2 separate regions of the Homo sapiens genome follow, and region 2 is linked to region 1. A link means that fine-mapping ties the variant in region 1 to the expression of a gene that starts in the linked region. Tissue or cell type: esophagus muscle. Region 1 holds a variant in brackets; the other region holds the start of a gene. All regions are shown on one strand. Distances are between the middles of the regions.

The links. PIP is the estimated chance that this variant, and not a neighbour inherited with it, causes the effect.
Region 2: it holds the start of NRP2, and the variant in region 1 is fine-mapped to the expression of NRP2 in esophagus muscle (GTEx, PIP above 0.99). The same link has a PIP of 0.9 or more in gastroesophageal junction and lung.

The regions. Positions count from the first base shown.
Region 1 is chr2:205,767,368-205,775,943 of GRCh38, reverse strand. The region is part of intron 15 of NRP2 (neuropilin 2); the gene reads right to left. Among named protein-coding and RNA genes, the nearest start is that of NRP2, 89 kb to the right of the region's middle. The variant G/T (reference allele first, on the strand shown) is at 4,545.
Region 2 is chr2:205,679,445-205,685,288 of GRCh38, reverse strand. It overlaps NRP2 (neuropilin 2), which reads right to left and starts at 2,788. Exons shown (of 17, transcript NM_003872.3): 1 at 1,926-2,788. The coding sequence starts at 1,998. RefSeq lists enhancers at 163-793, 5,675-5,844 and a silencer at 3,268-3,387.

The sequences.
Region 1 (8,576 bases):
CAAGAATGGTAGAATTACACATCTCTTCTCTTTCTGTTCAACCACAATCACTTTATAATATATGGAAGTGTTCTAATTCTTTCTCCCTCCATCTCCCTCTCTCTCTCACACACACACATACACATACACAAATACATACAAGTAAATGATGCTGACATGACTTCCGGGATTCAGTGAGGCAGATTTCCTGAGTGGTGGAAACACCATATTTGGTCTGGCTGGCCAGCATTCTCAGCAACAATGTATTAATTAAGCTGGCTAGACTTGAAGGTAAATTCCACTTTGGCTTGCCAAGGCTTCTGTGCCCATTGAAATTAGCCTGGTCTTGCCTAGACAGGTCAATCACCACTGTTAAGTCATGACTAATGCATCCTCATTTTTTAATTGGATGGAGGATTTTTAAAAGCAGATTGGAAGGGAAGTTGCAACAAAAAAAATGTGGGCACAAAATGACAGAGGGTATGTGAGAGCGAGAGTGAGTGAGTGAGAGAGAGAGGGAGGGAAATCATTCTTAATGACAGAAAAGACAGAGCAGGGAAGAGAAGCTGGCAGAGTATTTAGAAGGCAACCACGTTCACTGGCCGCTGCCGGTTGCTATGGAGATGATGTAGTAGATTTAAGCCCAGGGTAACTCTGGGGAAAGACTGGCTGGAGTCCCACTTGATGCAAAGCAGTGTTACAACTTGATTCTCCCAAAGATTTACATCAGATGAGAATCTGGCCCAGAAAGGGACTAGGAGCTTTTGAGCTTGCCAAAACCAGACATGATCTTTACTTCTGAAAAATGATATATGCTTCTCCTATGAAAAATGCCTCCCTAGCTGTTTGCATTAAGCCGGAAAGATGCATCCTCTCTACTCATGGGGTGCCCCAGCAGGGGAGCCATGGGTGGGAAGTGCTGCGGGCTCCTTCATGCATTAGTGGTCCTACCCTGTGAGCAGAGGGTGGTCCCCCTCTGCTCAAGATGCAAACGGGGCTCATTTCTATTTTCATGCCTCCTTACACTACCCACCCTAAGATTCAGAGCTCCTTAAGCAGAGGAACTCACTCTCATCATGAGGAACTTGCTCTCATCCATACCTAAGGGTTTATACAAAGAAGGCACTCAATAAATGCTTGGTGAATCAAACACTGAACTGAGGCTAAGACTCCTATTTCTGAGTCTGTGTTCTCTAATTCCTGCAGCCTGAACATCAGAACTCCTCTCTTTGATCTGGGGAATAGGTGGGAGGTGGGTCAGACCTTCTAATGTCTTCTCAGAAGTGATAGAAAAATGAGAACATTTTTCTTGGAAAATATTTCAAAGCCTGCTCAACTTCTTAGCTCTTAATCACTGCTTTCTCCTGCTGTATGAATCCCCTTCCGCTAGGGTGCAGGTTCATTGGCACCTCTTGGGTGACCAGAAGTCCCACAACATTGGCAGAGCTTTGACAAGGATGTGTTGCTCTGCACACACCTTGACAGCCACATCCACAACCCCTGGGGTAGAAATGACCCCAGAATCCCAGGATCCCCTGAATGTCCCTTTATACATCTTCCTCTTCTCCCACCTTATTGCCTGCCCTCTTTGTCTTTGTCCCCAAACTAATTCTGTCTTTTACTAGTTTCATTACCATAGCTGAGAAAGGCCTCTCTCTCTCTCATATTTGTGGCCATGGTGGAAATTATGCATAGAAAGAGAGGAAGAGAAAGCAAGGTGCTGGAAATGGCTCCTTGAAGTGGCCAGCTTGCAAGTCACAGTCAACTGGTGTCAATTCATTATTCAGGTCACCAAGAGGATCTGCTGCCTGGCAACCATCCTGCTGCTGGATTTTCGATATGAGCTTACAAAAATGCACAGGAAACATCAAAGTGTTAAGGGATGCCCCCAGAGTTCCTCAGAGACATCCCTTCTCTCCCCAAAGGGTGTCCTGGGGTTTGTCTCTGATTTTCATGTGGCTCCACAGTGAGGGCCATCCCCTAATGAGGCTGCAGCTCACCCATCAAGAAAAGGGAGGTGATAAATCCTCAGGGATTAGCTTTCCCTCTAAAGAAGTACCTGACCAGACCACAGAGGTGGGAGCAGAAATTTTTGTCAAGCAGAACATGGTCACAACTACCCACATTCCCTCCATCACTACATCATCTTTGTTCAAAAGTCTGCTTTCCTTCAGCCAAAATGCTGGTTTCCAACACAAAATACACAACCTATGGCTTAAAGTGCTCAGGCTGGAGAAGGATGAAGCCTTCATGTTTCTCTTACAGTGTTTCTTACGATAAGAGACAATGTTAGGGCACAATGGAGAGAATCAAGGGGACCTGCTGGAGGAAGGTGAAATCCTAGTACATGGATTACATATTTAGAATCAGAGACACAGACATAGTCTCTCAGAATCCTGCTCTACTTGAAAGACAAACTCCACTTTAAGTAAGACCCTCTTCTCCTTCTCTACTTATCCTTCTCTCCCCTGAAATTATCAACATGTAGAAAACTTCAGTGACAAAAGCTACTTGGGGGACATTATACTGGCTCCTTAAACATTTTCTTTGGGCATTTGTTTGGAGAAATGAGAAATAGTACTATGTGAATTCATGTTTTAATGTCAAGAGGTTAGAAATAACGTTAATGTTAGAAAAGAGAGGATATGACTAGCAAACCCTTCCTGATCCCCTACAAGCAACTCTTGGTTGACTTGCAGCTGGGGGCTAGAAGTTTCTCAGAACATTCACTAGCTAAAAAGACTCAACTCCAAAGGCAGGTGGAGTGTGCTGGTTTAGAATCTGGCCCTGTTCCAGCCTTGGAGAGCTGTATGCTAATGAGGCTGTGGTTTGCCAACTAGAGAAAAGGAAGACGATAAATCAATAGGGGTTAAATCCATACCCAAAGCACCTTCCCAGACAACATCAGCAATCCAATGAATGCCAGATGGATGGATGAATAGATAGGTGGATGGATAAATGGACGGATGGCATAGGGGAATATATTTGGACCAATGTTCAGACTCCCTGGAAAATGTTGATGACCTACTGGTACTTCCCTGGAGAGTTATTTTCAGAAAGTGCTAGAGATTTTGCTAGCTCATGTGGCACCTCTATGGGAAATTAGAAAAAGGTGCCCACTTTAGGCAGATGTCACCTGCACCAGATGCCCGAATTGCTGAGTTGTGCAATTTTAGCTTCACTTGCCCCTTCAGCCATCTGGGGGTGATCGAGCCATTGCTTGACAAAAAAGGAGCCTGGGCTAGGTGGGTGAAAGTGTAGGTGAGAATTCAACCTTGCCTGGAGTTGGTTGATCTGTTGACCTGAATTTTCCCTTTGATTGATCTAATTTCTACCGCTTACTCACATGTCTTTTTTCACCTGGAAAACACTTTCAATTCCTGAACTATTTTTCATTAATTCCCACCCCAGATTCTCTACAAAGTTTTCCCATTGTGTGAGATAATCAGAAACAGATACTTAAATAGTCAATAACTGAACTCCAAGTGCATTTGCAAGGTTGCACAGGCTCCCATCTGTAAAAATTCTGAGCCCCCTGGAGAAAAGCAATGCAAACACAAAGAATTTGAATTTTGAGAAACAATAAAGTTTGAGAAACCAGGCATGGGAGAAAATAAGAAAAACAGTTACACATGAGGTAGTGTTCCGGTCATTCCTATCTGCAAATAGGGTCACTATGCAATTGGGAAACGTGTCTGTAACAACGGCCACCCTGAGTGGACATTTCCTGTGTATTAACCATTGGTCTACGGGCTTCACATGAATCAATTTTGTTTATTCCTCATGACCCTCCAAAGGGAGACCTGAGTACTTGAGAGGACAAGTGATTTTCTCCTGGTTTCACTTGGAGGATAATTGTGGAGAAGGGCAGAGAAGCATTCAGTGAAACCCAAGAGATGGCCCAGGGTCCCCTGAGGAACTGTACACTGCTAGCAAGTGTCAGAGTCACGGCTAGAACCAGGTGGACAAAATCCCAGCCTGTGCTCTAACCCAGGGGTCAGCTCACTGTGGCCTATTGGCCAAATCCAGCCCACTGCCTGTTTGTGTAAATCAATTTTTGTTGGAACACAGACACCCTCATTTGTTTACATATTGCTTATGGATGCTTTTATGCCACAATGGCAGAGCTGAATACTTGCAACAGAGACTGTATGTCCTGTAAAACCCAAGATATTTACTATCTGGCCTTTACAGAACAAGTTTGCAGATTCCTTGCTCTAACCAAGTAGGGAGGGAAGAGGAAACAGTCCTCTTCCTTTCTGCCTCCTATTTCTGTCTGAACCTGTCTGAGGATTGGCGTGTCTCAGTCAAGTCAGTTTCTCACTGAATCTCTGAAATGAGAAAGCATATACTATAGCTGCTTTATGAAATATCATCTGGACCTGGGGGAGTCACCCAGGTTTCCAGAAGAAGTGTTTTGAAAGACACCAAGGGTAAGCCTTCTCTCTTTCTCTTTCAAAAAAGGCTCATTGCATGTCAGAATTGTTTTAGGACTGGCCTGTCTGCACAGTCCTTTCTGTACAGGTTAAAAATGAAGTGCTGGTGGAGGAACATTTCACATAAAG[G/T]TTTATTTAATTTGTGAGATTAAACAAACGAAAAAGGTTGGCTCCTCTAGAGAAGTTTACAGAAGATAGTAGAAGAATGTGGTCACGCCCTCTGATGTGTTTGGAAAAAAGACGCACAAGCACAAAGGCATCCCTGAGAAACGACTCTTTCCATCTGCCTTATGAGCATGGTGTGGCGGGAGGCGCCGGGATGTTTTCAGTAAGTTGGCAGAAACCATGTGGATTGCTCCCACATCTAGAGGCATTTTTAAATGCCTCCGAATTCAGATCTCTGACTGGCTGAAGTCTCGGACGCTTCACACTCTTTGGTGGCACTTATGCTACTTTCTGTAAACTGAGTCTTGTCCCTGTGTTCTTGGAGAGAAAAGTTGGTGAAAAACATTTTCTTCCACCCATAGATAAGCTGGCCTCGGCAGTTGTTTACATGAGTGGTAAACTGATGGAGAGGGGACGTGTCAGGCCTCTGTAGCAGGAGAGGTGGCATGCTCCAGCGAACCTCACAAAGAACACCTCTGTGTCCCCTGGGGAAGGATGGCCGCCAAGCAGTTACCCGCTTCACACATCTGATCTCCATGCTTTCTTGCTCAGCAACACCTAGCCTTAATCTGGCAGCTGGAGACATAAGGGGGTGGGGGCAAGGAGGAGGATTCACACACTACAGCTGCCTATCTGGAACCCCGGCAGGGGTTAGGAACACTTCTCTGCCTTTCATCAGACGGTTATGTGCAAAAGCACCATTTAACCCTCTCTGCATCTCAGAAGTGCTTCTAGGAGAAGGAGGCGTGGGAGGAAGGGAGTCCAGGGAGAAAGGGAATGTGAGGCCAGGCCCTGGGATGGGGGACCTTACCCTGGTGGACAAAGCCTTGGGAGGCAGGCAATAGAGGGTGAGGGTGGGAATGGGAAAGGAGAGAAGGGGGTGCAAAATGCAGAGATTGGCCAGTTGGCACCAAAGAAACAGAACTTAAAGCCTAAGGAATAGAGTCAAATGCCAGCCAGCATTACCCCCAAAATGGGCCTCTCTTAATACTGCTCCCCTCTATGCCCAAGAGACAGCTGTGGATGTGCACTTTCTCCTGGTTTTGTCTGGATGAGAACTGTGGAGAACTGCAGAAAGGCACCTAGGGAGACCCGAGAAATGGGGCCCCTGGACCTTAGGAATGGTCTGAGTCATAAACCCCACATTCCCAGCTGAAACGGGAGACATTGATGTTCCTTTTAGCATCCACTAGCGTAGGACAGTCATTCTGAATCCTTCCCTCTGACAACCACCTTCCACAGGTGCACCCAGCTGGGATTTCCGTGAGTCTCTAACAGGTAGGGCACCAGATCGTCTCTCTGCCCGTGCTCTGCTCAGAAACCACAGCCTCTAACACGAACAAAAACTCTTGCCTCCAAGGTGAGCTGCTAAAAATAACCACCTGGTCAACAAACCCCAGAACTCTGATTATGGGCTTCATATATTTTTACTGGCTTCTTTATTGTTCTTGTTTCCTTTATTGAAAAAAGAAAGTATTGGGTAAGAGGAAATAATCCATCACCTTAATTACACCACTTTTCGGTTCTTTTTCCCCCCTTTATACACACGGTTTTTCATTTGTTAAAGCTCAAATCCTAGAAAAAGATACATGACGGCACCATGTTTATAGCCACTGCTTTAAAAAAGAAAAGAAAAGAATGCACACCCAGGCTACATTGTTTAAAATGTGACTCATAACAACCACAAAAAAGGGTCTTTTTAAAAAATCACATGACAACACAGTTTATTCATTCTTTCTTCTCTTTCTCCCTTCTCAACACAGATCTCTTTTTCTTCCAGGCTTTTCTTCATTACTGACTCACATCCTGGCACACAATGTGTCTGTGTGTGTGTGTGTGTGTGTGTGTGTGTGTGTGTATGTATGTATATACACACACACAGCAGAAAACACAGGATGATTTAAATTTAAAATAATATTGCATGGCAAGAAATCAGTAAGAGGCGGAAAATGAAAGATACTTCCAAATATAAAAGATTGCGACCATCTAATAACTCCAGGTCCAAAGGCCACTTTTATTGTATTTCACTAAAGATTTACCTGTACAGTGATTGCTCCCAAAGAATGAGATTACCTTTGTTGCATGATTAATTTATAAGGGAAAAGAAAAACACTCTAATTTGAAAAATGTATAACAATGTAAATGCCTATGGTTGGCAGTGTTTCAACATCAACTTTCCATACCTTGCCTGCCCCCTGATTTCTCTGTTTCCATTTTTTGAGTGAAAAGGCTGATTTTATGCCCGGATCAAGAGAGGACTCCTGCTGTCCTGACCATAAGAGGAATAGTATATGAGTCACTAGGTTAGATGGAACACACAGTCCTCTCCTCTCTCAAACAGAAAAGTTTGCTCAAGGCAGAGTTGCATGCTGTGGTCAAACAGGTCTCAGCCAGAAAGAAGAGACCCATGGCACTAGGTTCATCTGGTTACCAACTCAGATCTCCATGTAAAACGTGCCAAGGTGAATGAAATTCTCCATTCCCAATTCAGATTCTGCTCTTTACTGTGTCCATTGGCCAAGTCTCTGCTCCCCAAGCCTTGGTTTCTTCTTCCCAAAGATGCTTGCCATCCTCCAGGACGAAAGCCATGGCCTAATCCATGCAACTTGTGCACTGCCTTTGCTTAGCCTCAAAGCGGCCCACCAGGAGCACCCTGGAAATTCTTACCTTCAAGTTACTAAGCCCTGTGTTTATTTTGGCTAAATGAGCACTGCTGCTCAGATGAGATTTTATGTATATATTTTTTACAAGAGAGCATGACTGGCCTGTGAAGCCTCATGGTAAGCACAGTTTCAAGGAGAGTGTACGTGCCCTGGTCTGCTTATTCTCTTACGGAAGTGAAGCACTTAGCACTTAGCCACTGTACTTGTCAGTCATGGCCCGACACGGTGTGCACACAGAACAGTGTCTGCAGCAGCTGCTGGCACGTCTTTACCCAGCCTTTCTGGGAGCTGTGAGTCTCCACAACCCAAAGAGAGTCAGGCGAAACAACATCCACAGCTTTCACTTCACCAACATAAGCATTACCTTGGGTCCTGAAGGTTAGAACTCGAATTCGACTGTAATCCAAAGTCGTTCAGTTTGGCTCTCAGCTTTCCTCCAATACTTTGGATTTACATTAACATAAACCTCACCCCCAGAGAGCACCAGTGTATGCACATGAATACTCTTAATACTTTTAGAACTGTGGTACAGGGAGTGGGCATGGGGTTCAGGGACACGAGGAAGGGTAAGAAAGGCAATATATTCTATGTCGGTCTGTCATTCCCCTGTCGTCTGCAGCTTTGTTCCTCACTGGCTGTCTTAGAGCTGATGAGTGGCAAATTGGGTGAGATGATTTGGAGTCAGGGAGCATATCTAGGTGGCAAACCAGGAATTCATCTCTTTCTAGCCCAGAGCTGGACAGATTAATGAGAGTGAAGATAACGAGTCTAGACGGCAGATATAAAAATGGCTGCCCTTATCTCTGCAATGCTGCCACTTGTAGGGGTAAGCCCAGCCAGTACAAAGAGGGCACAGCAATCCTCACAATTGCTGGCATCAAACAGGTCATGAAGAACCCCCATCATTTGGTGAGGGTGTTTTTGTGTGTGCTTTTACACTCAGGCCAACTGCAGTGACGCATTTAGAGTGGCTCCTAAATGTTTGGCATTAGAAACCGGTGTGGGAACTTCAGCAGTGTCCGCTAATAGGTTTGCAAAGAGGGCAAAATGTAAAATCTGCTGCATTGTAACAGCACAAACAACATTGCCATCACCCAAGGCTGGAGGCCTTTTTTTTTTTTTATAACCTGGATGAGGCAAGCATCCCCAATTCTTCTCACTTTGCTCTGCTCTCTCTGCTTTCTCGGGGGAGAACACGTCCTTTCTGATTTTCAGTCCTGCATTTAAAGTGCTCTAGCTCCAGTCATCGAATGCACCTCCTTATTCCCTTGACTGGACACCGGGTCCTAAATGTGGCAACTCTTTCTCCTGAGGCCACCACTTCTGTGTCTCT
Region 2 (5,844 bases), 89 kb after region 1:
CCAGCTTCGAATCCCACCCTGAGATCCCACCCCGGGTCCGAGGTTGCCCCGAACTCCGCGCCTCTGGGCTTCTCTGGAAGTGACGCAGCACTGCTGGGGATTGGGATGGGAGGGGGTTCTGCAGAGAGCGCGGCAGGCAGGTGGCAGAGCGGGAGTGGGTCCAAGCGGGTGTCGCGCACACACGTACACACACTCCAAGCAGCGCTCGGGGACAGATGTGCGAACATCTGGGGTAGGAGATGGCCCCTGAGTCTTCACGACCCCTCCCGCTCCGCACAGCACACGGAACCTGAAGTTGCATGTGTGTGCGCGCCAGTGTGAGTGCCAGTGTGTGCGCGCTCGCGCGCTGGGGCCTACTGGAGTCCGTGTCTGAATACATAATATACTGTGGGCATCCTCACGGCGCGCGCGCGTGTGCACACACACACAGCGAATCACACAAACATACATAATTTACGCAGCATCCAGGTCTGTGAGTGGTAATTTAATTCCGCTTCAAGCTGGGAATTTAGAAATAAGGCAAGGGGGAACGGCGGAGGCCCAGAAAATCTCCCCAAGTGGGACCCCCACCCATCCCTTTGGCAGGATTTGCAGCTGCCCTGAAGACCACTTATGGCAAAGAAAGAGCTGCAAACGTGCGGATCTGGGTGGCAAAGGCATTCCTGAATTTTCTTCCCCCCTCAAATAAATGCCCAAGCTTAAAGTGGTGTGTGTGCTGGTGGGGGGCGTGAGGAGAAGGAAGGGTGACAGTACCAGATGCAAGGCTAGGATCCACTAGCTGATGTTCTGGGGATGCCAAGGAGGCTGCAGAGTTAGCTCTACCACTGCCGCCATCGCCTTGCAAGTGCCTTGGGTGAGGGCACTTCAGGAAGGCTTTTTCGCCTTTCTTTCACCCATTTCCTCCATAGATGGTTTCTCCATCTCCAATCACCTGTAGCAGCTGCTAAGAGTTTTGTTGTTAGATTCCAGACACTGTTCTCAGAGGGGTAGGGAGGCTCACTCTAGAGAGTGGTCCGAGAAGGAAGCACAAACCCCACTGCATTCCCCATGGATTCCCCTTTCCAGAGCATACCCCTTGCCGCTCCCCACAAATGCGGTCCCCAGACTGTTCTGGGCCTCGAAATGCTTATCTCCACAGCAGCCTGTCCACACACCCTTTTTGGCAGTGGTTGAGAACAAATTCCACTCAAAAGTTTCTAACCACTTCACAAGAGTGAGAGACCTTCGAGGGCCTGCAATTTGTTTTAGCTAATAATAATTTCTAAAAGAACGTACGATTTACTTTCCCAGACAACACATGGATGAAGAGAGAAGAGACCAACCGTCTTGGTTGCCAGCAGCACCCAACCCCAAGCCCCTATCTCAGCCACAAGCCAACTTGCTCCACCAGCCTGAGCCTTATGATTCTGAAGCATAACCAGTCATTCTCCAAAGAATCTACAGCATCTGAAAACCAAAACTAAACTCTTGTCTTTCCCAAGCCCTTCAGTTAACATTGCTCAATGTAGCTAAGTGGAGGGAATGCAAATGATTTATATTTCACTGGCTAGTTGGAGAAACTCAAGGGAGATGTGTTCTGCTTCAAGACAGGGAAAAAAAATTCCCAAAAACTGTAATGCAAAGGCTTTGTAGTATTTTTAAACCTTTGATTCAGTCCATATGTGACATATGAACACCGCCAAATTCTGTTTCAAAACACACTCACACACACACACACACACACACACACACACTCCTAGCAGGAGAGGAAAGTTGGGTTTTAGCAGCCGTGGTGGTGTAGGAAGGGCCGGCTGGGATCTCTCTTTAAATTATTGAGTACTGAGGGAGCCTTCTTCTGTGCCGTTCTGCGTGGCCTTCCTGCTTTAGCGGTCACTTTTAAAGGGGAAACCATGTTGCAATAAATAGAAAAACTTTCAGTGGCTTACCTGGTTGGCCTCTCACTTGGTGTCTTGAAAAGTAGAGGGCTAAGAAAACCCAGGTGAGAGGAAACATATCCATTTTGGAGAAGGTGGCTCTTTCCAGAGCTGGGTTCGTAGGTTTCTTGTTTAAATCTTTGTGTTTTTCTCTCTTTTATTTTCCTCCTTACAACGTCTTATGCAGAGGTTTCTAATGGTCAGCGTTTCCCTCCTGAGTCCTGGTGGCTTGTCTTCACCTCTATTCTTGCTGGAATTTCCACCTCACCAGGAGGAGAGTAGCTCCTGAAATCAGCAAAGAGGGAACAAGCCGGGAAGAGAACACGGTTTTCCTCTTAAAAACAAAACGCATATATGTTCTCTCCAGTTCCTCAAAGTGTCATTTCCTTTATCCTACAAATATCACGAGTATTTCCCGAAAGCCAAGCGTAACAATAATGATAATAATAATAATTAAAACCAAGACTTGCCTTGGGCATCACACGGCCCCCAGGCAGCTGTGTGATCTCAGAGGCGTAAACTGACACACATCCCGCGGCACCCTTGACGGACACACGGGCGGAGGCAGCCGCCGCCGGACAGCCCGAGTGGAAGGCGGCCGCCCTGCTCTTGTCCTCGCCGGGTTCCCCCGGCGGGAGCCTCCCCCAACGGCTACACCCGCTTGGCCAGCCTCTCGAGGGGAGTCTGAGGAAGGAAGCTGCTGCTGCTGTTGCTGCTGCTGGTGCGGCGGCGGTGGCGGCTGGGATCGCCTGGGAGTGAGCGAGCCCCTCTCCGAGTTCGCTGGCGCCCGCCCTCACCTCCACCTCGCCGAGTGTCTGTGCGGCTGAGGATGTGCTGGGGGCCGGCTGCAGGCTGGTGCCTCGCTCGCGATCTCTGCCTCCCCTCCGGCTCCCCACTGCCTTTTCAGGCCGAGCAGCATGTGGATGTCAGAGCCGCGGCAGAGCTATCCGATTACGCGCCGGCTCAGGGCCCGCCCCTTCTGTGTTCCTGATTAAAGAGGCAGCCGCGGAGACGCGCGGCGCAGAGCAGAGTGCCGCGGCACCCAGCTCGGGCGGGGCGGCGACGGCTTCTCTCGGGCCGCCGCAGGATCGAAGTTAAGGCGGCGCCCATCCCACCACCCCTCGCCCGCCCCGCATCTCCCGATCGCCCCCGCGCACCTCCGCGCCGGGCCGCCGGTGCGTAACGCCCTGGGGAAGAAGCGCCCCCGGGCACCCCCAGGGCGCGCCGCCTTGGCCGTGTCGCCCCCACCCAAGGGAGACCCCGGGGGGACGGGGGGAAAAGCCTTGTTCCCCCTAAATTCCACGACTCCGATGCCACACACGCAGAACCCAACACAATGCCACGCGCGATGGCGTTACAAGAGGAGTTGGGTGGCGTACGGTGTTTGGGGTAGCGAGCCGGTCGGCAGCTCAGCCATGCGTTCGAACAGGCAGCGGTGCGTGGCGGCGACACACACCGTCAGCCCGGTCTGAATAAAACCCCAAACACTCGCTGCGTTTACTACTCAGATCCTTTGTTATGTCCCAAACATGCTCTGCTCCTCTCTGGGTTAGGATTTCGTTACCCCTGCGCCTTTAACTGTAACTACCCTAAAAAGAGGAAAGACTTTCTTCAGCAAATAATTTCTTCAGGTAATTAAATTGGATTCCATCAAGTTCCCCCGAAAAAGTATAGGTGCTTGAAGGCGTCTCATCCAAATGCTACTGTAACTACGTCTATTCACATTTTCCCCCATGGAAACGTGGTCACAAAGCCTAGAGAAAGAAAACATCATTATGCCAACTATTTTTAAATGGAGGCGTGAAAACTGTTTAGAGGGAACTGCAAGCTAACAGTTGGGGAAACACTTGTATCTTTGTTTCTGAGGATGGCTTTGTGGATTCCAAACTGTCTTGCTTCACCAGACACCTATTACTACATTATCATAAAGACTGCAACAGAAACAGCCTAAATTACACCCTGCACATGTACACCTTTTCTGCCACAAAAGAGGTATATGAAAAATAAGAAAATTCAGAAAAATATTTACAGATTAAGATTTTTTTTAAATTAAGAAAGTAAAATTTTCTGTAGATTAAGAAAAATACAGTTTCGGTGACGAGAAACACACACCTGACTACCCATTTTCTTCTTGGCTTGTACTTGTGGATTCTTCTGGGTGGTTTCCCTCCTTATCTGGACTTGCCCATTAGCTTTATCACTTTTAGTGTTTGAAAAATCTGTAACTCCCACTTAACTGTTATTTACACTGAGATAACCAAAACAAAATTGAATCAGAAGTGATTTGCAAATAGTTGAGCCAAGCTGTGTTGGGGGGTGGCGCGGGATTTTAGAGTGGAAATCCACAGGCTGAGTATCACACTGTTAATCTCAGATGCCTGGTTGGGAAAGGCACAGCACAGAGGCCTCTGAGTTCTTCCAGGGAGCATGTCTCTTGGCTAGCCTAAATGCTACCTTTCATTCCCTCTTTGCCTCCCTCCTTCCTCTTCCTCCCTCCTTTCCTTCCTTCTTCCTTCCTTTCTAGGCTTGAGAGCACATCCACATTATTAAAAACTCCAGATTTACATTTCTCCTCTTTAAAGCTCAATTGTAAAGAATGACTCCAAGCCTTAAATATTTAACAAAGTAAAAGAGCAGTTTGGATTATTAACCTTAAGCAGAGATCCCGGTTTATGTCATTGCCAAGATGCTAATCTAAGGACAAAGAACGCTATCTGTAGTGACAGTCCCTGAATAGAGAGGGCCATTTAATATCACCTCTCCCCACCACTCACCAGGCATGCCAAACCATTTTTGCCAGTGCCCAATGTGGGAGACTCCTGTTTGTGAGAATAATGTAGCCAGGGTTTAGGTGAAGGGCACTGTGAAAGGGGGAAAGAAGAGAGAAAAGGTAAACCTAAGCCCACTGGAGAACCATAAGAATGACAACCCTGGACTTCTGGTCTTGGGGTCTCAGGGATGAAGGTCCCCATCAGGCTGCTTCCAGAGTAGAGAAAAGTAAGAATCAGTTTTGTTCCTGGCCTGGTTGCCTACACTGTAACTTTTCATTTTTCAGCGGTGTCCTACAGGGGACGCTCACTTACTTCCTGGGAGTCCTCTGTACCAGGGCTGCAAGACTTCCCACTCCCCTTGAGTGAAGGCCTCATTTCCTGCAGTTGGACAGAGAGTGAGTCTCAGGTTTCCATCCCTGGGGACTCAAGCGGCCAGACCATTTTTCAATCCTCTAGGGGGCAGCACTCAATAAATAATGGTAACACCACCCAGGGTCACACTTCTGGTGGTGCTTTTAATTCCAAGGAGTTCAAAGTGCTTTATCAGACCAGGGAAGATTCAGAGTGAGGCCGATCTCTCCCCAGCCTACTCTGAACAAGACCCCACCGGCCCAGAGAGGGCTTAGAATTGTTTTAACCTAAGACTTCCAAGGACTCTTGGGAACTAAACACAAATCTCACATGTGCCACATGGAAAACAAATCTTTAGGGAAATTCTTCACACTGGGACTGGCTCAGACCTGCCAGTCTTGTTTCCCTCTAGACTGGGATCTCAGGGTTTGACTGCAGTTGGTCTGGTTTCCACCAGAGGTATAGTGGTAAAGAGCTAGGTAGGCACCGTGCTTTTCAGTATTTTGTGAGTCCACATCCCTGGCCCATAGGGAAGCCTGCCTACCTAAAGGCCAGTGTCAAAAATCGGGTTTGTGATCAAAAACACTGAGCTGACTAGATAACAGCTAATTAGCGAAGCTGAGATTCCTGGCCACATCACTGACTCACCTAGGATGTTTCATGTCATTATCCTTAGTTGTAAAATAATACTAGATAATCCACTCCACATTCCATTCCTTTGACGGGAAGGGATGTGGGGGAACATGAAACAGGTTGGTAAATGATGCTAAGAGAAAGCTGTTACCAAGCCACACCCCTGTGGAAAGTTA